Linked DNA regions of Homo sapiens. The protein of the gene in region 2 interacts with the protein of the main gene of each other region in a pairwise test. Each region holds a gene or a part of one and is shown on either strand. Other genes may lie near its edges.

What was found.
Region 1: the proteins of KLK4 (region 2) and TYRO3 interact in binary tests that used the Homo sapiens proteins (3 or more experiments, as listed by UniProt).

Annotation. Positions count from the first base shown.
Region 1 is NC_000015.10:41,552,252-41,564,629, reverse strand, and holds the start of TYRO3 (tyrosine-protein kinase receptor TYRO3 isoform 1 precursor), read right to left. Parts: upstream 5,419-12,378; 5' UTR 5,373-5,418; coding exon 5,249-5,372; intron 4,659-5,248; exon of another isoform or gene 4,334-4,658; intron 3,504-4,333; coding exon 3,320-3,503; intron 3,092-3,319; coding exon 2,991-3,091; intron 2,083-2,990; coding exon 1,912-2,082; intron 447-1,911; coding exon 360-446; intron 1-359. UniProt on the Homo sapiens protein: Receptor tyrosine kinase that transduces signals from the extracellular matrix into the cytoplasm by binding to several ligands including TULP1 or GAS6. Regulates many physiological processes including cell survival, migration and differentiation.
Region 2 is NC_000019.10:50,906,216-50,918,609, forward strand, and holds KLK4 (kallikrein-4 isoform 1 preproprotein), read right to left. Parts: upstream 5,181-12,394; 5' UTR 5,124-5,180; intron 4,535-5,123; 5' UTR 4,524-4,534; coding exon 4,463-4,523; intron 3,200-4,462; coding exon 3,037-3,199; exon of another isoform or gene 3,025-3,036; intron 2,615-3,024; coding exon 2,364-2,614; intron 2,281-2,363; coding exon 2,144-2,280; intron 872-2,143; coding exon 719-871; 3' UTR 136-718; downstream 1-135. UniProt on the Homo sapiens protein: Has a major role in enamel formation. Required during the maturation stage of tooth development for clearance of enamel proteins and normal structural patterning of the crystalline matrix.

The DNA.
Region 1 (12,378 bases), on a different chromosome or scaffold from region 2:
CCTCCATCCGGTACTAGGCTGTTTTCCCCACCCCCATCCCCTCAAAGGGAGGGGCAGAAACAAGGCTGGGCATGGGCCTTGACCATCTCCTGCTGCCTCCCTCCCTCCTTCCCTCCCTCCCAAGGACTCTGCTTCGTGATGGGAAATCTGCTGTGACGTCAGGATTCTATTCTCATCTCAGCCACGCAGGGTCTCAGGTGCTCCCACTAGGAATGGGAGCTATGCCAATTAACCCCTTGCTCCCTAGATCCCAGCAGGACCACAAGGGGAGCTGGAACACAGAATGATTCTAACTGCTGGACAGCTCGCTGGGAATGCCCCTGGCCTCATCCACCCTTCCTCCCTGCCAGCCCTCCTACCTTGAAGGTGAACAGTGGCTGTGCGAGAAGAGGCCAGGCCTTTTAGGTTGTGAGCTTCACAGGAAAACATGGTGCTCTGGGTCACCCCTGGGGCCAGAAAACCTCAGTCAGCTCCCCAAGCAGCAACCCCACTCAGTGCGGGACTGGGAAAGGGGAATACTCAGGCTCTGGTCTGAACATCCTTAAATCCCTCCTGCCAAAGGAAGGGGCTGGGCAGTGAGGTACGGTGAAATGAACAGGGACACTAGAGTCTGGTGAGCCTGGAGAGGGCTCTGTTTTCTCATCTCTCAAATGGGAGAATTGTGAGAATCAGGTAATGTGTGTCAAGTGCACGGCATGCTAAATAAGCCCTTGAGAAACGTTATACCACCCTCCCACCTCCATCCCATCTCCCACACACAGCACAAATTGCCCCCCTTTTCTGGTCACTCTTTTATTGCGCATACCAGAGTGAGCCCTTCTGTTTGCTCTGTGCCCCCTTGGGGTTGTTATTTGCAGACTCTCTGCCTTGCAGTAGTTCTCAGCTCTTTATGCACATGTCTTGTCTCCCCAGTTATACTCAGTTCTTTAGCTTCTATTTCCTTTGTATTCCCTCTGTCCCCTGTGGTGCCTAGCACAGTGTGGTGTGGAGTAGGAGTTCAGTGAGTGCTTATTATCAGGCTGCCTGCCTGAGGGTCCCAACCACGCACACCTGGAAGGAAGTGAACCCAACCTCCTCTCTAATCTGCTCCAACTCAGCGCCTCCTGAACAGGACCTGCACTTGCTTCCAAGAGGTCTCATAGTCCACCTCTTGTCAAGATTCAAATTGCTGGAGAACCTAGCTCAGCGCCCATTTCCCTGGCACCTTCCAGCACATGAGACCAAGCTCAGACTCCCATCTTTTTTGCCCAATTCAAGCCTCAACCAGAAACAAATAAGCAAGCCTTTGTTTCACAAATAAGCAAGCCTTACAAGCATGTGAGGGTATGTGCCCAAGAAACTTGGGGCCCAGGTGGGTGTGCAGGTGTGACTGTGCAGAGGTATGGACAGACACAGTTGTTTGAGAAAACGTGTGGAGGTTTCCCGGAAAGCGCCATTAGGGGAGGAGGCCCTGTATCTTTGTGCTAACCTCCCCCTACCCCTTCTCTCTCCCTCCTCTCCCCTCTCTGCAGCCTGAGAGTCTTGTCTTCTCAGTGTCTGCCAGATACTCCTCCCTAGTTCTGCGTGGGCTGGTTTCTGGCTCCTTTCCTTGGGAGGGGTGGGGGATGGGTGCCCCTGGTCTCATACAATTCATCTCTGAGGGCCAGCTGTGCATGGCCTGGACTGCTGTGAACCAAAGGTGGCCCCACACCCTCCTTAAGCACACACAGCAGGATCACCACTAATCAGCCCACCCAGCCAGCCTAGCACACCTGACTAATGAGCTTAGTAATGGTGCAGCTCACGTCCCCAGACACTGGGGCTTGCTCTGGACGCTCACAACCGCAAGCTCAGTGGCTGAAACTGCCAGCTTCAGTGCCCTCCAGGACCCAGCTCCTTCTCCACTCCCAGCCCCCTTCTGAGGCTGCTCACCTGTTACATTTAAAACAGATGGAGAGGGAGCGGGTCCCCCGATCTTCGTAGTTCCTCTCCACCAGACAATGGTAACAGGTTCAGGGGGACCCACAGCCTCACAAGACAGTTGGAAAGGGGCATTGGGTGGCACTGCCAGATCTTTTGGCTCCACTGTGAAAAATGGCACACCTAGGAGAGAAGGGGAGTGAGGAGTGAGCCCTGCCACCTCTTGGCTTCCTACTGTACAAATCACAAGTCTGTTTACATCTGAAGTCCTCCACGCAGAAGGTTCCCACAGGCCCCTTATGATTAGGTCAACAGCAGAACAGGCATCTAGCTTGAGAGGTAGGCGGTGCTTCTCTTTTTCAGGCTCCTTAGGAATTTTTTTTTTTTTTTTTTTTTTTTGAGATTGGTCGCGGGGAGGTCTCTCTATGTTGCCCAGGCTGGCCTGGAACTCCTGGGGGCTCAAGTGATCCTCTGGCCTTAGCCTCCGGAGTAGCTGGGACTACAGGCACACGCCACCATGCCTGGCACCTTAGACACATCTTCCATGCTGCCCCCTTAGGCATGGCAGATTTGGACAGCTCTTCTTGCAGTAAGAGAGGAGACTGGGGGTGGAGAGCTGGGAGAGGGGCATAAAACTCAGGGGAGTGGGTGAGAGCTTTAGCAGAGTTCTGCTGCCAGGCCCCAGCTCCCATTCAGGGCCCTTTGTTACTTTCTTAGTCACTTTGTTTTCCTGGGCTGAACAGCTCTGAGCTCCCGCAGCTGCAGAGCCTTCCTCCCCTCCCCCTGCTGGCCAGGCCACTTGGCAGAACAGGGTCCAGTCCCAGATGGATGCTTGAAGCTTGTTGCTCAAGCAACGGAAACAGACTGCACCCCACAGGTTGTGGATCCCAGTTGGTCCCTTGGTTCTCAGATACCCAACTCCAACTGGTAGGGTCTTCCGACATCTGGAGTGGGCCTACAGCCTGGACAACCAGGCCCCACAGAGCAGTGGGGCAGCCCAGCTTCTACTGAGTTCTCCGCTGCAGAGGTATAGTCACCAGCAGACAGCACGTGCTCCAGGCCAACACGCCCATATGGCTCTGCCTCCTCACCTTCTACCGTGAGCCACACTGGCTGGGAGATCTCGGTTTCACCCCCATCCTCCACCTGGCACCAGTACCGGCCGGCGTCAGAGCGCTCCACTGACTTCAGGCTGTGGAAACAGGATACGAGGCTTGCTTCCGAGGGCAAGGGCGGCAGCTCTGCTGGGCAAACTTGATGAGTTCAGCCTGCCCCCACTTCTGGAAGGTCCCACAGGTAGCCAAATAAAAAAACCACAGACCTCTGGGCATCAGGAGAGGGCCCCAGCTCCCAATCCCCAAGGAAAGAGCATAGCCTGCCCCCTGGCTGGCAGCCCACACCTTCCCCCACAGGCCTGCACCTGAGGAAGCCGATCCAGTGCTGCTCGCTGACTGGGATGTACAACTGGTCCAAGTTCTGGACCACAGCCCCATCCTTCACCCACTGGATGTCAGGCTCCTCCATCCCCTCCACACTGCAGTTGAGCTTCACCGGCTGCCCCTGAGACACTGTCAGCTTCACCGGGGCTCCCATGAGCTTCAGACCTGAGGGGTGGGAAGGAACATGTGTCAGCCTTGAGAGGGACTCTGTCTCTGTAAACAGTTCCCATTCTCTTCTAGAAGGTAGCTTCTGTGTCAGACAGAGGGCTCTTTCTCAGCCAAAGTCAAGGAAGCAGAGGTAGGACAGTGTGGAAGGGAAGGTCGCTGGACCTGGGCGAAGGGAAGGGGCATGGCAAGCTCTCCAAGTTCCCTCCGGCTCTAAGGACCTCTTCCCCATGTCCTCCTTCTGAGCCCAGACAGCAAAAGGAAGGCAGGCTGGGCTGAAACGATGGGAGTTACCCTACTGGGGCAGGCACTGCTCTAGGAATGACTGCTGCACCCAACTAGTGCAACAGGCTGCCAGCTCTCCACCCAAGGTGTCAGCCCAGACCCTGAATTGCTGCCAGCACCCTCTGCACCCAACCTTACCAAATGGAGCAGGGCTGAAGAAGGAAAGGAGGGGGTGCTCCCCTGAAGTGGAGAACATATGGCTGCAAAACCACGTCAGATCAAACACATGGCAGCCTTCCTGGCAGCCATCCACTCTATTAATACCTGAATGTGGGCAGGGGCGAGTGCTAGGAAGGTGGGAGGCAGAAGGGAGGGCTGGGGCCCTGAGCAGGGAGCCTAAGACCCCTGAGCCACTGCCACATTAACAGGGGCCACTCTTTGGAACTTGCGTGCGAGCGCGCGCGCGCGCGCGCACACACACACACACACACACACACACACACACACATACACGCACCTCTCCTGGCCTCCTGGCATGTTTTTAAGCAGAGAGAGGGGCAGGTCAAGTATCCACATAACTGAAATCCAGCCCTGCTTCTTCTCACCCTTTGCTGTGTGACTCTAGGCAAAGTCGTGGGCTCCCTGAGCATCAGGTCCGCACCTTTCGGCTTGTAAATACTCGTCACCCCGTTTCCCTTCCCTTCCCTGAGAGGCTGATATGGCAAGGAATGCTGTCTCAAGAGAAGATGCCAGCGGGTGGCCGCTGTCCTGGCCTGTGGCTCTTCCCTGCTCCCTTCACCCTCTCAGGACCAGTCACAGGATGGGGGCCAGCCTCCCGCTCCCTATATGCCCATCAGTCCCCGAGGTGCGGGGTGGGAACTTGGAGAGCACCGTGCTGCATGGAACGCTCTTGTCACCAGCAAATGCCTCAGTGGCTATGTGGGAACACAAGACTAACCCCTCCCAAAGACCAGCAACCTGGCACCAGCCCATCCTCTCCAAGGTTCTGCTTTCAGGAAGCTCTGAGGGCACAGGAACTCGAGTGTGCCCATTTGTTTTTTGTGACTGGGCACCCTCACAGCCCCTGTGTACCTAAATGGTATCAGGGTGGCCTTTGGGTGCCCAGCCCCGGCCCGTGTGGTTTCCGAGGCGGACCTTCGCGTGCGGGGCAGGCAGAATGGGGTCCCCAGTACTGGGAAGGAGGGAGCTAACAGCTGGGAACATCGAGGCGGGAAAATGCAGTCCCAAACACTCCCCGCTGACCACACAGCCCACACCCCGCTCCCTTCTCTTCCACCCCGCCAGAAGAGCCCCGAGCGCCAGAAAGTTGGGGGTGGGGGCCCGGCCGGAGATCTGGCGGCGAGCACTCCGCAGCGTGCCCTGTCCCGGCTCCGAGCCTCGGCCTTCGGCTCCGGACCCCCACCCCGACTCCAGCCCGCCAGGCCCGCCCCGGGCTCCGACCCCCGGCCGCGCCCCTCCGCAGCCCCCCGCTTCCCGCCGCCTCCCGTGCCAGCCCCTACCTGCGGCGGCGGACTCCGGGAGCAGCAGAGAAGCCAGAGCCGCCAGCAGCAGCCCGAGCCGCGGTGGCGGCGGCAGCGGCAGCGGCGGGAGCCCCGGCCGCCCCATGCTCCGCCTCAGCGCCATCGGCGGCGACGCCGCACCATGCCGGGCCCGGCCCGCGAGCGAGGAGGGAGGAGGGCGGGGAGGAGGCGGCGGGAAGGGAGCGGGAGGGAGGAGGGCTGCGGGAGGGGCTGGGGCCGCCCGTGGGGCGGTGCTGAGGCGACCGCCTCCGAGACCCGCGCCCGCCTCCGGCCGCGGTCGCCGCCGTCAGCAGCGCGGGGTCCCCGGGGCCGCTCCCGCGCCACCGCGCTCCTTCCACTGCCGTCGCCGCCGTCGCCGCCGCTGATTCATGTTCTTCTCGGAGCCGCCGCCTCCTCCCGGCCCGCCCGCAGCCCGAGCTCGCACCGCCCCCCCGCGGAGCCCCGGCGACTGGCTCGGAGCGCGAATCCCAGCCAGCGCCGCAAACCCCCGCGGCCCCGCCGGCGCCCCGCCGGCACGCCGGCCCCAGCCGCCCCCTGGCCAAACCTGAGGATCCGGCTTGGCCTCCAGGATGGGCTCCCCGGCCACGCCCCTCCTTTCCCTAAACCCGCTCCGGCATCTTTTCTAACCCAGCCCTCCAGAGCCTTCCCTCAAAACCCCGCTGTCAGCCCCCACCACACCCCAACTCTTGTTCGGACTCTGATCCCAGAATCCAGCATCCCCCTCTCAGGACTTAGAGCACCTCAACCCCTAGACACTCCCATCCATCTGGCTCCCCGAAACTGCCGTGACCCGGGGCTCCCCCAACAGGATCGGCTAGCATCCCTTCGTGCCTCCCTTTCATTGAGCCATTCACCCAAAATCCCCATATTCATGTCCTATTGCCATGCCTTTATCTCCAAGTCCCTCCCACCTGAAAAATGCCCATTTTCTCCAGCCCCAATTGCCGTATGTTTTCCAACTTGGGTCCTGAGTTTCCCAAGATCTTGGTAATCCCCAGGTTTTACCTAATATATATCCCCACCACTACACTACACAGGCCAAAGCCTAATTGCCCGTATCTTTTTGGGCTGTCATTTTTCCTGGTTGCTTCCCCTGCTTCTACCCCTTTTCCCAGGACCTGGTGTGAAAGTTGGCTGTGTCGTCACACTGTCCAGTCAAACATTAGCTATTATTAGTAGACCACCTTGCACACAGTAGGCTTTCCATAAATAAATAGGCAGATGCCTGTTAAATGAATGAATAATTGCTTCAGAGCCTGCCCCACAACCAGTAATCACGAGGGTGGCCTTGCCCACAGACATCCTGTTAGGCACATGCAGAGCTGGTTCCAAACCAAGCCTACCAAGTGTGCTCCTCCCCTTGCCCTTCCCTCCAGGGGGAAGCCCACCCCACACCCCTTCCAGAGGTCCTGGGTAGAGAGGAGGGACCAGCCACTCAGCTCCGGTTGCCGCAGGCTCACTGGATCTTTTCAGGGATTCTCCTGAGCAGCAGGGGCCTGCCTCTTCTTCCACTTGGCCCCAGCAGTGCTTGTTTATTAATTACCCTAATGATAACAACAGCAGTGCTGGCAGCAGCCTGAGACCCAGCTGGGGGCGCCCCCAGGCGGCAGCAGGAGGAGAGACTCATGAGGCACTGTCAAGACATGGATGGCAGGGGCCAGATATCTCTGTCTCTGTTTCTTTCTTTTTTTTTTTTTAATTGGCATATTTGTTTATTTCTCAGTTTGTGAAAATGTTCTTAATTTGTTGATGTAGCAAACAAATTTCAACTTTGATTGCTATGAAAAAAACAAGATAATCTGCTTTGCAATGAACTTTATATAGTTAAACTGCATACAGGCAACATGCTATATATGAAAAAGTTACTAACTGATCTACAGGTATTACATACTGAAAAGAGTTAACAGTTTATTATAATTTATTTTATTTAACAATCTAGGAAGTTCGCAGCCATCAGCAGTTCTAGTACAATTTCAGGTGCAATTGGGAATTCAGGAATCTCGATGGAGCTGTTAGTGTAGCGAACCTTGTAGGTAAAATACATGCATACTTTCGATAGCACATGTGAAGGTATCTCTCTAAAATTGACCTCATTGGTTTCGTTCTCAGCAAACTGACCTCACAGCATAAACAAAAATTAACTTAAGACCAAAGACCTAAATTTAAAAGCCAAACCCATAAAACGCCTGGGCCACTCAACATGGCTTTTATCGTGCCTGATGTTAATGCATGTTCTCTTTTTACAATAAATTCATGGCCATCAGATGATATCAATTTGACATACGTGGCATCAGGGCCTTCACAGCCACCATAGGTTTTCTCCTCTCCATCCATTTTGTTCTTATGAAATTCTACTTTGCTTCCCCAGGAACTTTAGTAGTTTCCTGGTGAGGCGAGGACACAGAGTGTGTGGCTCACTTCCGTCTCCTCTGTCTCTGTTTCACTGAGCTCTCTGGCAATTATGTTCTTCTTCCTTCTTCCTTCTTCTTCCTTCTTTCTTCTTCTTCTTCCTCTCCCTCTCTTCCCCTTCCCCTTCCACTTCCCCTTCCCCTCCTCCTCCTCCTATTCTTCTCTGCTTCTTCCTCTTCCTCTCTTTCTTCTTCTTCTTCTTCTTTTTTTTTTTTAGATGAAGTTTCACGCTTGTCGTCCAGGCTGGAGTGCAATGGTGCGATCTTGGCTGACTGCAACCTCCACCTCATGGGTTCAAGCGATTCTCCTGCCACAGCCTCATGAGTAGCTGGGATTACAGGTGCCCACCACCACGTTCGGCTCATTTTTGTATTATTAGTACAGACAGGGTTTCACCATGTTGGCCAGGCTGGTCTCAAACTCCTGACCTTAGGTAATCCGCCCACCTCGGCATCCCAAAATACTGGGATTACAGGTGTGAGCCACTGTGCCTGGCCTCTCTGCCAATTTTCTTGAGCACTGTGGGTCAGCTTCAGGACCCTTTCCCAAAGGAAAAGTCTCGTTACTTTCCAGAATCCACAGTTTCTGAGTTTGGGCTGAGTCAGGGCAGGCAGACAATAGTCTGGGGCCGAAGGCAGAATTGCCTGGGCTGCTCTTGGGCACTTGTCACTTTTCCAAGCCCTCTCTCCCGCCTTTTCTCTGAGGGGGACTTCAAGTTTCCAGTGAAGGGGAGCCTCCTCCTCTTGATTCCAGCTGACATTAGTAAGATTCATTCTAGAGGATGTTGGACCCAGAGCCCAACCCAGCCTTTTACTTCCTTATCTCTCTTCATTCCCTCCGCACCATTTCCTGAGCTGATAGGGAATCCCACCCTAAAGGCCATCCTTTTCTACTGGTCAAAATGGGCTTCTCGGACATGTGATGGATGCCACTTACAGCCTTGACAAACTTCCCACCTCAGCCACCAGCCTGAGATACATCACTGTCACAGAGGCAGCACACTTTCTGTGTGGGACAGGGGGCCCTGAGTTCCTGCTTCCCCTACCCCTAATTCTAAATCTCTCTCAATTCATAGTATTTCTTTTTTTTTTTTTTTTTTTGAGACGGAGTCCCGCTTTGTCACCCAGGCTGGAGTGCAATGGCGTGATCTCGGCTCACTGCAACCTTCGCCTCCCAAAGTGCTGGGATTACAGGCATGAGCCACCTTGCCCAGCCGTAGTATTTCTACTTACAGGGGCAGAGAGGAGGCCGGGAGCAGTGACTCACACCTGTAATCCCAGCACTTTGGGAGGCCTAGGCAGGCGGATCATGAGGTCAGGAGTTCGATACCAGCCTGGCCAACATGGTGAAACCTCATCTCTACTAAAAATACAAAAATTAGCTGGATGTGGTGGCGGCTGCCTGTAATCCCAGCTACTTACTGAGGAGGCTGAGGCAGGAGAACCACTTGAACCTGGGAGACGGAGGTTGCAGTGAGCCGAGATTGCGCCATTGCACTCCAGCCTGGGCGACAGAGCATGACTCCATCTCAAAAAAAAAAGAAAGAAAGAAAAAAAAAGGGCAGAGAGGAGTGGGGGGTCCTGGTCTTCTGACTTTTCAGCTCCTACAGAGGTTTGACCTCCTGAGCCCTTCTAACCCATTCTCCTTGCTTATCTCCCCCACCTTTCTCTCTCTGGGCACAGTACAGGAATGTGCTTCTAAGGGTATGTGAGCAGGTGTGATTTTGTGGAAGAGACATGTAGGTGGATGAGAGGGTGTGCATTGTGATGTATGAGGGAGGGTGTGCATTTGTGCAAATTCTAAATGTGACTGATGCTTTGTGGGCGGATGGGAAGAAAGTGTGTGCGTGTGGGTGTGGAGGTGTGTGTGTGTCTGTGTGTGACTGGAGGAGGTTGGCTGCCTGTGCAAATGCATGCCTGCAAAAGCTCTTCTTCTTCCATAAATGCATTGTTTGGAAGGAAACTAATAAAATCAACAGGAAATGTTTTTGACCTAATGCGGGAGTGGCTGTCCCAGGAGTTCCTGTCCTTAGAACAGAACCAGAAGCAGCTATACTCTATTCCAGAGGAGTAAGAAGGGGCCGCAAGGGTGGAGGAAGACTGAGTGAGAGGAAGGGCCAGCGGCAGCCCCTGATTATGGATGGGACTAGGTTGGGCACAGCATCTCACTAATCTAGTAAAATAACTCTCTGCCCACTCTCAGCCTTTTATGACCCAGAACTGTTCAAGGAGGCCAAGGATCCAGAGAAGATGAAGACAAACCTGGAGATAAAAACCATTGTCCACAGAAGCAGGGCACTCTGCTACCAACTTCCGGCACTCTGAAGAAGCAGCTGTTTCAGCTTTTTCAGAGTTAAGGCCTTCTGCCCCACCCCTAGAGTGGGGGAAACAAGAGGAAACCATGGTGAGCTGCAGGATCATGACAGTCTCACTGGTCATATAACCAAAGACCTGTTCTTTCCCAACTACTGTCTCAAGAGATAAGAGTTGCCCAGGCGTGATGGCTCCCACCTATAATCACAGCACTTTGGGAGGCTGAGGCGGGAAGATCACCTGAGGTCAGGAGTTCAAGACCGGCCTGGCCAACACGGTGAAACCCTGTCTCTACCAAAAATACAAAAATTAGCCAGATGTGGTGGCGCATGCCTGTAGTCCCAGCTACTTGGGACACTGAAGTGGGAGGATCACTTGAGCCCGGGAGGTGGAGGCTGCAGTGAGCTGAGATGGTGCCACTGCACTCCAGCCTGGGTTACAGAGCGAGATCTTGTCTCAAAAAAAAAAAAAAAAAAAAAAAAAAAAAAGAGGTGAGAGTGGGCAAGTTCCACTCAAGGGATGGGGGGATGGGGCAGGCCACAGACTATGTTCCTCACCTTAGAGAAACCTCTGGGACTGGTAGAAACATTACCTATATGTGTAATTCCACATGTGCTGGGGACTGTTGCTGTCCCTGTCAAACACCCACTGCCTGAAATTCCTAAGCCAGAAACAATGCAACTTCTTGCCCCATCAAAGATGACACAGAAATGTAAATTCCTAAGAAGACCACACTTTGACTTTCAGTCACAGGAAATATTTCAAATGATCAGATTTCCCTCCAAAAGCAGATTTAGGAAGCAGTAGAGCAATAAGGTTGCGGTTTCTGAAAGGGCAGATGGGTCCAAACATGGAAGAAAAACTTTCATCTTCAAAATTTCACCTAAAGATGGCTGTGGAAGAGTTTTGTGTGTGTATGGACACGTGTGTATGTGTGTGTGTATGTGTGTGTGCCTGTGTGTATGCGTGTGTGCGTCTGTATGTATATGTGTGTGTATGCATGTGCGTGTATGTATGTATGCTTGTGTGTGTGCCTGTATGTGCATGTGTGTTAATGCCTTGTATCTGGCTGGCTGTCTTTCTCTATTTGACCCTCTTTAACTGCAGCCTGGTCAGTGAGGGTTTTCTGGCTCTATTTTCTTATTTTATATGTGTATGTATGTATGTACATATTTATTTATTGAGACAGAGTCTCGCTCTGTTGTCCAGGCTGGAGTGCAGTGGCACGATCTCAGCTCACTGCAACCTCTGCCTCCCAGGCTCAAGCGATTCTCCTGACTCAGCCTCCTGAGTAGCTAGGATTACAGGCTCATGCCACCATGCCCAGCTAATTTTTGTATTTTTAGCAGAGACAGGGTTTCATCACGTTGGCCAGGCTGGTCTCGAACTCCTGACCTTGTGATCTGCCCACCTCGGCCTCCCAAAGTGTTGGGATTACAGGCATGAGCCACTGCACCCAGTCATATTATTTTGTATTATGGAATATTTCTTTTTCTTTTTTTTTTTTTTTTTTTAAGACTGAGTCTTGCTCTGTCACCCAGGCTGGAGTGCAGTGGTGCTATCTCAGCTCATTGCAACCTCGGCCTCCCGGTTCAAGCGATTCTTCTGCCTCAGCCTCCCGAGTAGCTGGGACTACAGGCACATGCCACCATGCCCAGCTAATTTTTGTATTTTTAGTAAAGATGGGGTTTCACCATATTGGCCAGGCTGGTCTTGAGCTCCTGACTTGTGATCCACTTGCCTCGGCCTCCCAAAGTACTGGGATTAGAGTCGTGAGTCACTGTGCCCAGCGGAATATTTCAAACATACATGCAAGTAGAGAGAACAGTATAATGAGTGAATCCCCAGTGTACCTGGCATCCTGCTTCAATGACTATCTTAGTCAATTGTATTTCATTGTCCTAGTTTGTTGTTTTGCTGGGTTTTTTTTTTCTTCAACTTTTATTCCTAACCGCTAGACAACCAGAGATTGCTAAAGTTTGTTTTTTTTTTGTTTGTTTTTTTTTTTTTTGAGACAGAGTCTTGCTTTGTCACCCAGGCTGGAGTGCAGTGGCGCTATCTCGGCTCACTGCAAGCTCCACCTCCTGGGTTCACACCATTCTCCTGCCTCAGCCTCCTGAGTAGCTGGGACTACAGGTGCCCGCCACCACGCCCGTCTAATTTTTTATATTTTTAGTAGAGACGGGGTTTCACCGTGTTAGCGAGGATGGTCTCGATCTCCTGACCTCGTGATCTGCCTGCCTCAGCCTCCCAAAGTGCTGGGATTACAGGCATGAGCCACCACTCCCAGCCGGATTGCTGAAGTTTCTAAAAGCAAATCTTAGCCATATAATTTCAGCTGTAAATATTATAATATATATCTGTAACAGGTAGACTTAAAAAAAAAAA
Region 2 (12,394 bases):
CCCTCTGAAACTCTGTGGCCCTCCTGGTCAAAGCTCGCATTTCCCAGATAGGGAAATGCGACCCATGGAGGGAAAGCCATTTGCTGGAATCTCTTGAATGGAAGGGGAAGCAAGGAGGACACTACAAACAGAACCTGCGCTTCTCTTAGACTTTATTTCTGGATCTAGGGGAAAGGGACAAAAAATGAAAAACCAACTGGTAAGGTTGGGTCAACGTGCCACAAGGGGGCACTGTGTACAGGGAGAGTCTAGGTGGCATTGGACCGCTGGGTCTGAGGGAGGAGGGGCTGGGACCTGGACCTCTGGGTCTGGGGAAGGAGGGGTTGGGGGCCTGGACCTCTGAGTCTGAGGGAGGAGGGGTTGGGGGCCTGGACCCCTGGGTCTGAGGGAGGAGGGGCTGGGGGGTCTGGACTCCTGGGTCTGAGGGAGGAGGGGCTGGACTCCTGGGTCTGAGGGAGGAGGGGCTGGGGGGTCTGGACTCCTGGGTCTGAGGGAGGAGGGGCTGGACTCCTGGGTCTGAGGGAGGAGGGGCTGGGGGGTCTGGACTCCTGGGTCTGAGGGAGGAGGGGCTGGGGATCTGTACCCTTGGTTTGAGGGAGGAGGGGCTGGGGGCCTGGACTCCTGGGCCTGAGGGAGGAGGGGCTGGGAACAGATATTCCTGAATTCCTTCCGCAGGATGTATTTGGGGGTCAATTTCATGGGTTCCCAGTCCCCAGAGTTAACTGGCCTGGACGGTTTTCTCTATCCACTCAGTGAATTTGCAGAGGTTGGTGTAGACACCTGGCACGCCAACTTGGCCACACGGGGCTTTTCCGAAAGACACAAGGCCCTGCAAGTACCCGTTGCAGATCAGGGGCCCCCCAGAGTCACCCTGTTGTGAAGAGAGGGAGAGTCAGAATTCAAAACACAGAGAGGTGGAAATGGATGTGGGCTCAGAAAGGAACTAAATGAGACTGAGAAACAAAGACAGAACCATCATCAATAACAACATAGCCCAGCAACATATCTGTTGGAAGTCCCATTCCAGATCCCTGACTTCATCTAATCCTGCTTCCCGATGTCCTATGTCCTGAATGCTGGCTGCTTCTCTTGGGCTTGTGGTCTGTCTGTTTCTGTTTGTCTGTCTCTCCTTTGTCTCCTTTGTGGCTTGTTTATCTGTCTCAGTGTCTCTGCATCTCTTTGTAAAGTCTTTTTTTTTTTTTTTTTTTTGAGACAGAGTCTTACTCTGTTGCCCCAGCTGGAGTATAGTGGTGTGATCTCAACTCACTTCAACCTCTGCCTCCCATATTCAAGCAATTCTTCTGCCTCAGCCTCCCAAGTAGCTGGGATTACAGGCGCCTGCCACCATATCCAGCTAACTTTTGTATTTTTAGTACAGACAGGATTTCACCATTTTGGCCAGGCTGGTCTTGAACTCCTTACCTCAAGTGATCTGCCTGCCTCGCCTCCCAAAGTGCTGGGATTACAGGCATGAGCCACCCTGCCCAGCCTCTTTGTAGAGTCTTGATTTTTCCTGTTTCTCTTCGTGTTTCACCTCTATGAATCTGTGTCACTGTTTCCCTCTGGGTACACAGTTGACCCTTGAACAACCCTGGTTTGAACTGCACAAGTCCACTTATACTTGGATTTTTTCAATAAACACATTAGAAAAATTTTAGGAGAGTTGCAACAATTTAAAAAAATTCACAGACGAACTGTGTAGCTTAGAAATATCAAAAAATTCCAACAAAGGTATATCATGAATGCATAAAACGTATGCATAAATCGACTATTTATGTTATTGGTAAGGCTCCCCGTCAACAGTAGGCTATTTCTAGTCAGGTTTTTGGGGAGTCAAAAGTTATAAGAGGATTTTCTGTTGGGTGGAGGTCACCGCCCTCAGGCCCCATGCTGTTGGAAGGTCAACTGCATTTCTATGTGTGTGTGTTTCTGCCTCCCCATGTCTGTTTCTGTTTCTCTCTTCCTTTGCTTCTCTTTATTCCTGTGTTTATTTCTCTGTTTCTCTCAGTTTCTCTCTCTAGTTGTCACTGTCTCCCTGTGTGTCTCTCCATCTCTGCATCTCGCCATGCGGCCCTGTGTGTCTCTGTCTCCCCCTTCTCCACCCTTCCCTGAGTCGCCTGCCCTCCCCTTTCCCCTCTCTCACGTTGCAGGAGTCCTTCTGGTCTTGCCCTCCGCCGGCGCAGAACATGCTGGGGTGGTACAGCGGGTCATAGAGCTTACTGCAGACCTCCTCAGACACCACCGACACGTTCACGCACTGCAGCACGGTAGGCATTCTGCCTGGGACGCAGAGCTCTGGGTCAGCCCCCGCGACTGGGCAGAGGACCTCCTTGAAGAGGGCAGACACACACCCGTGAGCTCACCGTTCGCCAGCAGACCCCAGCCAGAAACGAGGCAAGAGTTCCCCGCGGTAGGGCACTGCGAAGCAATGCTGATGCTCCGGATGGTGTCAGACTCGGACACGGATTCGTCCAACTTGATGAGCATGAGGTCGTTAGCGAGCAAGGGTCTGTTGTACTCTGGGTGCCGTACGGAGAGGCTGGCCTCCACCATCTGGCTCCCTGGCTCTTGGTCGGCCTCAAGACTGTGCAGGCCCAGCCCGATGGTGTAGGAGCTGTGGGCCACGGAGGGCAGGTCAGTTTTGTGGCAACTACATCCTTACCTCCATTCTCATCTTCAACCCCATTCCCATCCCCATCTCCTAACCCCAACCCCACCCTCTTCGCTAAACACCCTAAGAGCTACTTAACCATGGTCTCAAATCCTCATTCACAAAAATTCAGGGACAAGAACTTGCCTTAGTTCACTAGAGACTCAGCACTGGGCTGAGATTTCAAGTCAGGACTCTCTGAGTCCTTCCGAAGCAAGATTCCCGCCTCCCAGCCCTTCCCTCTGGGGCTCCCCGGATCCAGGCTCATTCCGTCCTCCTCCCAGAGCCTTCACCGCTGTTTCCCCCTGAGCACCCCAAGATGAGCCTGATATTAGGCCCCGCCCCCGGACCCAGGCCCTGCCCACTCCCCCTACCTCTGCACTCACTTCTGGAAACAGTGTGCGGCTGACAGCACCCACTGCGGATGCACCAGGACGCCCGAGCAGAACAATTCGTTTTCCATGACCAGTGCCGCCTGCCAGGGCTGCGAGTGCGGGCTGCAGTCCTCGCCGTTTATGATTTGGCTGCAGCTACCAGAGACGAGCGATCCTGAGGGCGGAGTCAGGGATGGGATCGGGACCAGGAGGCGGGCCCAGGGTTCCTGGGGGTGGGCTTACCGAGCAGGGGCGTGGTCAGAGGTTCAGGAGCAGTCAGGGCTCCTCGGGGCGGAGTCAGGGCTGGGAACGGGCTCAGGAGGCGGGCCCAGGGCTCTTGGGGGAGGGGTTACCGAGCAGGGGCGTGGTCAGGGCTTCAGGAGCAGTCAGGACTCTTGGGGGGCCGAGTCAGGGCTGGGGGCGGGCCCAGGGGGCGGACCCAGGGCTCCTGGGGGTGGGGTTATGGTGCAGGGGTCATGATCGGAGCTTCAGGGGCTGGTCCAGGATATAGGCCTAGGGCTCCCAGGGGCGGTGATCACGGTGCAGGAGCCTGGTCAGGGATTCAGGGTAGTCAGGGCTCCTGGGAGGAGAGTCAGGGCATGGGGGTGGGCTGAGAAGGCGGGATCAGTGCTCCTAGGGTTGGGGTTACAGCGCAGGGGCGCCATCAAGGCTTCAAGAGCTGGGTTATGGCTAGAGGCAGTCTCAGAAGGTGGGACCAGGGCTTCTGGGGCGGAGTCAGGGCTCTGGGGTGAGCTCTGGAGGTGAGACTGGTGCCATCGCGGTGCAAAGCCACGGTCAGGAGGGGTTCAACAGAGGAGTCTAGGCTCATAGCAGTAGGATCGGGTCCTTCGGGGTGAATTAAAGCTCAGGGGGTGGAGTTGTTGCTGGGAGCAAGGATCGGGTCACTTGTCTGCGCAGACTGATGCTCAAAGAGTCGGTCCTGCGCCGAGTCACTCCTATCCTCTCCCAGCCTTGCCCACAGTCACACCAAGCCACAAGCCCATGCACACCAAAACACCGTTTTATAGTCCTGTGAGGTGAGTTCCTTGGGGATGGGAGAGGGGGATCTCAGGACTGAAGACCCAGGAAGCAGGCACAGATTCCCAGCAATGGATCACGCCCCAGGAAGCACAATCTCCTGCACCCTCGGCTTCCCCTGTCCCCATATCATCATTACACTGTTGTCACTCCACCAGATATTCAGAGGCACAAACTGTCAGAGTCTCACAGGTACAACCACACACCCAGGCACACTGCCACACACAAATTTACCACGATACAAGGAGTTGCAGGGGCACAGCCATGGGGGACGGATAACACGGTACCGTCTCACAGGCAGCTTTGCAGTCACAAGCAAGAGGACACTGAGTCACACCTGAACATTAACAAACACTGTGCCCCCAAGCACGGACAGACACACACACGCATACTCAGATACCTGCGACACCAAGGATGAGGTACCCCAGGAACCAGCCCCAGGGATTTCCTGCTGTGGCCATCACGTCAGCACCTGGGGATGAGGACTGAGACTTAGCCGTGTCTGGGGATCTTCAGCCCAAGTCTCTCCATCCCTCTCTTTGTCCCTCCCTTTCTTCCCTCTGGGACGTTATTAGGTAGGCAAGAGCCTAGACCATCTACCCCCTCTCCCATCCATGGACCCAGAACCTAGAGAGACAGATTTAGAGACTGAGAGAGAAAAAGAGAGAGAGAGATGGGAAAAGAGAGAGAGAGAGAGAACTAGGTAGAAAGGAAAGTTTAGAGAAAGCATCTAGCCATCTGTGAATGGGGAGAGATGGTGTCTAGCCACCCACAAACAAGCATGGAGGGAAGACACACAGAGAATCAGAGCCGGAGAGACAGAGTGCTTGAGAGATATCCTCAGAGACAGTCTGAGAGTTAGACATGGAGATATAGATTCAGAGAGACAGAGAGACCCCTAACTAGAGACAGTGACTCCTAACTAGAGACAGTGAGAGATCTGTCTAGAGAGATGTGGAGACAGAAGGCACAGAGGCTGAGAATCCAGCGACATGGAGCTGTAGGGAGAGTTGGATCATGAACACTGCAGGCTTTTAGTGGGGGACCACCAGGCCTCTTACCCGGCCACCTCTGGGCTCCTGGATTCCACTGCTGGGCTGAGCTCCAGCCTGCTGCCTCCCGCAGGGGCCTCCTTGGGGCTTATAAGCATCCTCAGCCTGGGCTGGCCTGCCCCCAGGGGATGTGTTCCAGGGGTCAGGTGCTGCAAACTTCCAGCTCAACTCTCTCAGGCTGCCTCAACTCTGACCAGGCAGTGGTTGGGGGCCCAGAAGGGGCTGGCAGCAGGGTCTAGGGACCCAGGGAGGAGACCCCTGCCCAGATCCTAGACTCCACTCTCCTTTTTCTTTCTCTCTCTCTCTCTCATTCTTTCTCTTTTCATGTTCTTATTCTCTCTCATGAGATACCTCTCTCTTGCCTGTATCTCTCATTTTCTCTTTCTCTTCTTCTTTCTTTCTCTCATTCTCTCTCTCATTATTTTTCTCGTGTTTTCTTTCATTTCCTCTCATTCTCTCCTGTTCTCTCTCATGTTCTTTCTCTTTTTAAATTAAATCTCTCTCTCTCTCTCCCCTCCTCCTTCATCCCTCTCTTTCTGTGCTTCTCCAGCAAATTTCCCCAGGTTCGTATCCAGCCTACATCACGAACTATTTTTGGAACCTTGGGCAAGTGACTGCACCCCTGTGAGCCTGTTTTTCCAACTGTAAAACTGGAGTGACCATTATGCCCCATTTCCCAAGTGGATTCAAAGAGGTAATTCAGGGAAAGGCACACAGTGCCAGGCACATTGTAGGCTCTCGGTGAGCGGGAGAACTAAAAAGTCTTCGCTCAGTGAAAAGCAGCTGAGTGCCTACCACACTCCGAGCTCTGCGGCAGGTGCTGGGGCCACAGGAGGAACCAGCAAAGTCCTCGTCACTGGGGATCGCGTCCTACCCGGGGGCACAGACCATAAAGGAAAACTGCAGGGACCAGCATATAAGGTGGTGGTCGGGGAGACTCAGAGAAGGGGAACATTTAAGCTGAGATCCCAGGGAAGAGGAGGAGGAGGGTCGCCGCAGCAGGGGCGGTTGCGGGGTGCAGGGGAGAACTTGGCTCCAGCCAGAGGAGGGCAGGGCGGGTAGGAGGGCAGGGCGGGTAGGAGCGCAGACCGGGAACCGGGCGGGCCTGCAGGAGTTTACGTACCAGGATTAAGGAGCTTGGGTTTTACTTAAGTGCAATGGATTTTAAGCACGAGGATGGAGTGACATAATCTTATTTACTTTTTAAAAACTTCCAGCTTGGAGAGTGATGGTGGGGGCGGGGCGGGGGGCAGTGGCAACAGCCCAGGTGGGAGGTGACGGGGTCAAGGGAGAAGAGAGGTGAATGGACACGGGGTCCCCTCTGCATGTGGAGCCAAGTTACTGCCCGATGGATGGAAAGTGGGGGGCCAGGAGCAGAGGGGCCAAGGATGGCGTGGAGGCTTGGTCTGCTGGCTTGCGCTCTACGGATCTTGTGGAGACGCATAGGTGCGGGAAGGGGGGTGGGGGGTGAGAGGGTGCCGTAGACCGCGGAGGGTGCACGGAGGGGCAGGCCGAGGTCAGGACTGCCGAGAAACAGCGGGGACTCATCAGGGGAGAGGTGGTGTTTACAGCCACGAGGCCGGGTGAGATCATCCAAGGAGTGGGTGGGTGTAGACCGCGGAGCCGGCGCGGGTGAGGGATAGTGCCCGCAGGTGACCGCGACGAGGCAGGAATGTCTCTGTGTCTCTCTGTCTCTCCTGGGTCTCTAACACTCTTTCCTTCTCCTTCCTTACTTCTTTCCCCCACAGCCCACCCCGTGTGTCTGTCTCTCTTTCTCTCTGGCTCTCTTTTCCTCTGCCTCTCTGGTCCCATCTCTGTCTCTCTCCCCCTTGTCTCTGTTTCTCTCACCTGCCAGACTGGAAGCATCCCAAGTGAGACCCTCCCCCAACTCTGTCCTGGGCCCGTGCGCCCCCAGATAACTCTGGGCAGGACGGGACATAGGCTGGGACCACAGAACAGGAAGCCCTGGCAGGTTTCTGTCTCTGTCTCTCTTTTCCCTGTCCCTGTCCCTTTCTCTCTCTGATCCCTTCTCTCTCGCTCTCCCTCTGACCTCTGTCTGTGACCCTCTGATCTCTGTCTGTCTCTGTCTGCCCCTGTGTGTCTCTCTTTCCTCCTGTCTCTGTCTCACCTTGCCTTCTCTCTCTGTCTGTGTCTCTGCACCTGTGTCTGTCCATCTTTCTCTGTGTCTCTCTCCTCCCATCTCTGTCTCTGTCTGTGGCTCCGCACCTGTCTCTGTCCATCTTTCTCTGTGTCTCTCTCCTCCCATCTCTGTCTCTGTCTCTCTGTCTGTCTCCGCACCTGTCTGTCCATCTTTCTCTGTGTCTCTCTCCTCCCATCTCTGTCTCTGTCTCTCTGTCTGTCTCTGCACCTGTGTCTGTCCATCTTTCTCTGTGTCTCTCTCCTCCCATCTCTGTCTCTGTCTCTCTGTCTGTGTCTCCGCACCTGTGTGTCTGTCCATCTTTCTCTGTGTCTCTCTCTCCTCCCATCTCTGTCTCTGTCTCTCTGTCTGTGTCTCCGCACCTGTGTCTCTGTCCATCTTTCTCTGTGTCTCTCTCTCCTCCCATCTCTGTCTCTGTCTCTCTGTCTGTGGCTTCGCACCTGTCTCTGTCCATCTTTCTCTGTGTCTCTCTCTCCTCCCATCTCTGTCTCTGTCTCTCTGTCTGTGTCTCCGCACCTGTGTGTCTGTCCATCTTTCTCTGTCTCTCTCTCCTCCCATCTCTGTCTCTGTCTCTCTGTCTGTCTCCGCACCTGTCTGTCCATCTTTCTCTGTGTCTCTCTCCTCCCATCTCTGTCTCTGTCTCTCTGTCTGTCTCTGCACCTGTGTCTGTCCATCTTTCTCTGTGTCTCTCTCCTCCCATCTCTGTCTCTGTCTCTCTGTCTGTGTCTCCGCACCTGTGTGTCTGTCCATCTTTCTCTGTGTCTCTCTCCTCCCATCTCTGTCTCTGTCTCTCTGTCTGTGTCTCCGCACCTGTGTCTCTGTCCATCTTTCTCTGTGTCTCTCTCTCTCCTCCCATCTCTGTCTCTGTCTCTCTGTCTGTGGCTTCGCACATGTCTCTGTCCATCTTTCTCTGTGTCTCTCTCTCCTCCCATCTCTGTCTCTGTCTCTCTGTCTGTGTCTCCGCACCTGTGTGTCTGTCCATCTTTCTCTGTGTCTCTCTCCTCCCATCTCTGTCTCTGTCTCTCTGTCTGTGTCTCCGCACCTGTCTCTGTCCATCTTTCTCTGTGTCTCTCTCCTCCCATCTCTGTCTCTGTCTCTCTGTCTGTGGCTCTGCACCTTTGTCTCTGTCTATCTTTCTCTGTCTCCACTTTCCTCCTGTCTTCTCTCATGTTGCTCTGTCTTTGTTTTCCATGCGCTTCCAACACTTCTCCCTTCGCTCTCTTCATTGTGTCTCAACTCAAGTGTTACTTCTTCAGAGCCCTTCCCTGAGCCCTCCCCTAGTCTGATTCAGGGTCTTCACTCCCCTATTTGTTTTTTCATCTTATAGCATCCTACATGCTCCTTTAGAGAATTTGGTACAATGTATACACGTATTATTATGTGTTTCTTTTTCTTTTTTTTTCTTTTTTGTTTGTTTGTTTGTTTCTTTGAGATGGAGTCTCACTGTGTTACCCAGGCTGGAGTAGAGTGGTGCGATCTCTGCTCACTGCAACCTCCGCCCCCCGGGTTCAAGCGATTCTCCTGCCTCAGCCTCCCCAGTAACTGGGATTATAGGTGCCTGCCACCAATTCTGGCTAATTTTTGTATTTTTAGTAGAGATGGGGTTTCACCATGTTGGCTAGGCTGGTCTCAAACTCCTGACTTCAGGTGATCCGCCCACCTTGGCCTCCCAAAGTGCTGGGATTACAGGCGAGAGCCACCGCGCCCGTCTTGTGTGTTTATTTTTCTAGTAGCTGTTTCTTTCATTAGTGTGGGAGCCCCTTGGGGACAGGGCTGGTGTCTGTTATGTTCACTGATAAAAACTATTCACTGCAGATGTGTTGAGTGGATGGATAAAGGGAGATACAAAAATAGAGAGAGACAGACAGGAGAGGGAGAGATGAAGGCTGACGGAGAGAGAAAATAACAACAGACAACAATGGTAGCTTACTATTAATTAACCTTTAGAATATGTTAAATTAATTGTAAGGAGGTCAAGAACTTACCTTATGTCTGGCCCTCTTCTAAGTATTTTAAATGCAATAACAAATGTATTCCTCAAAAAAATCTAAGAAGTAGATGCTGCTATGAACTTTGTTTGACAGATGGAGAAACTGAGGCACAGAGAGGGTAAGTAGTTTACCAAGGTCACAGAAAGACTGAGGCCAAAAGAGAAGAACAGACAGAAGTGGGTAGATGGAGAGTAGGAGAGAGCTGGGAACACACTGAGAGATGTGGCCAAAAAGATAGGAAGACGCTGAAAGAGAGACACGTCTCAGGAATTAGGAATAATCATCACTTTAAAAATAATAAAATATCAGGTTGGGCGCGGTGGCTCACGCCTGCAATCCCAGCACTTTGGGAGGCTGAGGCGGGTGGATCATCTGAGGTCAGGAGTTCGAGACCAGCCTGGCCAACATGGCAAAACCCCATCTCTACTAAAAATACAAAAATTACCTGGGCGTGGTGGTGGGCCCCTGTAATCCCAGCAACTTGGGAGGCTGAGGCAGGAGAATTACTTGAACCCGGGAGGCAGAGGTTGCAGTGAGTCGAGATCGCGCCATTGCACTCCAGCCTAGGTAACAAGAGTGAAACTCTGTCTCAGAAAACAAACAAGTAATAATAATAATGATAAAATATCTAACATTTATCTATCACCTCTCTTCTAGTTGTCATGGTAACAATTTTATACAAGTTAACTAGTTTTAATTTTCATAACTCCCTGAGGTACTCATCATTATTCCCAATGTGATGAAAGAGGAAATGAACGCACAGAGAGGGCAAGCTACTTATTGAAGATCACACAGCAAAGCAGCCATGCACATGGGCTGCCTGACCCCAGAGCCCATATCTTGAGCTGTTATGCCACCTCTCTCTATAAGTCAGGAAACAGAAGCTGAAGCCAAAGGACAGGTGGGCCTTCCTGTAGATACACAGGTCATGGGGGCCCACCCTGGCCCACTATCCATCATCTGAGTCATCTGAGTTCACCCCCACCTGCGGATGAGATGCAGCCTCAGCCAGAGAAGCCAGGGAGTATTGCTGGGGAGGGGAGGGAATGCGGCCACAGACGGGGCCACCCGCCCACCGAGAGAGCCCGCTCTTACTGTATAACTGGAAGAACAAGCCCCTTCTACCTCCCATCCCCCTGGGGGCTGGCTGAGCCACAAGAGGCATGAATCTCTGGATGCAGTGGTGCCGCTGCACTAAGGCCCCGAGGCAGCCCCAGCCATCTCTGCTGAGGTGCCCAGAGCAGCCCTTAGGGAACTGACCCCTGAGTTTTCCTCAGTAACCTCAGGGAACTCCTGTCGGCTGGATTTGAACAAACCTCAAGGGTGGAAGAAGGCATCACTCTTGCTTTTTTTTTTTTTTTTTTTTTTTTTGAGATGGAGTCTCGCTCTGTCGCCCAGGCTGGAGTCCAGTGGTGGGATCTCGGTTCACTGCAACCTACTCCTCCCAGGTTCAAGCAATTCCCCTGCCTCAGCCTCCCGAATAGTGGGGATTACAGGCACACACCACCACACCCGGCCCATCCTTGCCTTTTATTCAATAACATAAGGCTACCTTGGGGCAGATTGTATTACACAAGAAAAGTCTTTTCCTTCCTTAGTATGGACGATAGGATATTCAGTAGGAAGAAAACTCAAAAGTCCTGGTGTGAGTGGCTCCTTTTCCTGCTCCGGTCTCAAGAGGAGAGAGGCTGGGACTGAATGGTGCAATCCTGGGATCTCCTCCAGAAGTGGGGAGGAGGATGGAGAGACGGACTTTGGGAGAAGGAAAGATGGAGCTCACTCCAGCATGAGGGAGGTGCAGGGAGGCAGAGAGAACACAGCCTGTTTGCCAGCAAGATGGGAGGATGGCTGTGGGCTGGGGGGACCACTCTGGGGAGGATCTTCTAGCCACTCTGCAGCAGCAAGTAGAAGAACCCCAGTAAATAATAAAGGAGGGCTGGGCACAGTGGCTAACGCCTGTAATCCCAGCACTTTGGGAGGCTGAGGCAGATGGATCACTTGAGCTCAGGGGTTCGAGGCCAGCCTAGGCAACATAGCAAGACCCCGTCACTACTAAAAATAAATTAGCCAGGCATAGTGGTGCACACCTGTCGTCCCAGCTACTCAGGAGGCTGAGGCAGGAGGAGGATCGCTTGAGCCCAGGAGTTCAAGGCTGCCGTGAGCCAAGATCACACCACTGCACTCCAGCCTGTGAGAGCAAAAACAAACAAGGCTGGGCATGGTGGCTCATGCCTGTAATCCTAGCACTTTGGGAGGCCAAGGCGGGTAGATCACCTGAGGTCAGGAGTTTGAGACCAGCCTGGCCAACATGTTGAAACCCCGTCTTTATTAAAAGTACAAAAAATTAGCCGGGCTTGGTGGTGCGTGCCTGTAATCTCAGCTACTTGGGAGGCTGAGGCACGAGAATCACTTGAACCCAGGAGGTGGAGATTGCAGTAAGCCAAGATCACGCCACTGCACTCCAGCCTAGCGACAGAGTGAGACTGTCTCACACACAAACTCACCAAAAAAAAAAAAAAATATCACCCCAAAACCCCACAAAAACCAAAGGAGCAGAAGTTATGATGGTGGCCTCATTAACCAAGGGCCTGGGCATCCCCCATTTTTCTAGCAGCAACCAAGCTGAGTCATCAGACATCACTCTACAGAAGAAGGAGGATGGATGGGACCCCAAAGTAGCTGTGACATTTCTTGCCAGGCAGATGGGGACAGGGGCAGTGGGCCTGGAGCAGACTGAAATCAATTAAGATCTAATTGTGCAGGCCATAGTGGGCAGGTGTGGTCAAGGGACTAGCTTTTAAATTTTATTTAGGTTTTTTTTTTTTTTTTTTAGATGGAGTCTTGCCCTGTCGCCCAGGTTGGAGTGCGGTGGTATAATCTCGACTCACTGCAACCTCCACCTCCTGGATTCAAGTGATTCTCCTGCCTCAGCCTCCCGAGTAGCTGGAAATACAGGCACACGCAACCACACCTGGCTAATTTTTTTGTACTTTTAGTAGAGACGGGGTTTCGCCATGTTGGCCAGGCTGGTCTCGAACTCCTGACCTCAAGTGATCTGCCCACCTTGGCCTCCCAAAGTGCTGGGATTACAGGTGTGAACCCTCGTGCCTGGCCTTATTTAGTTTTAATTA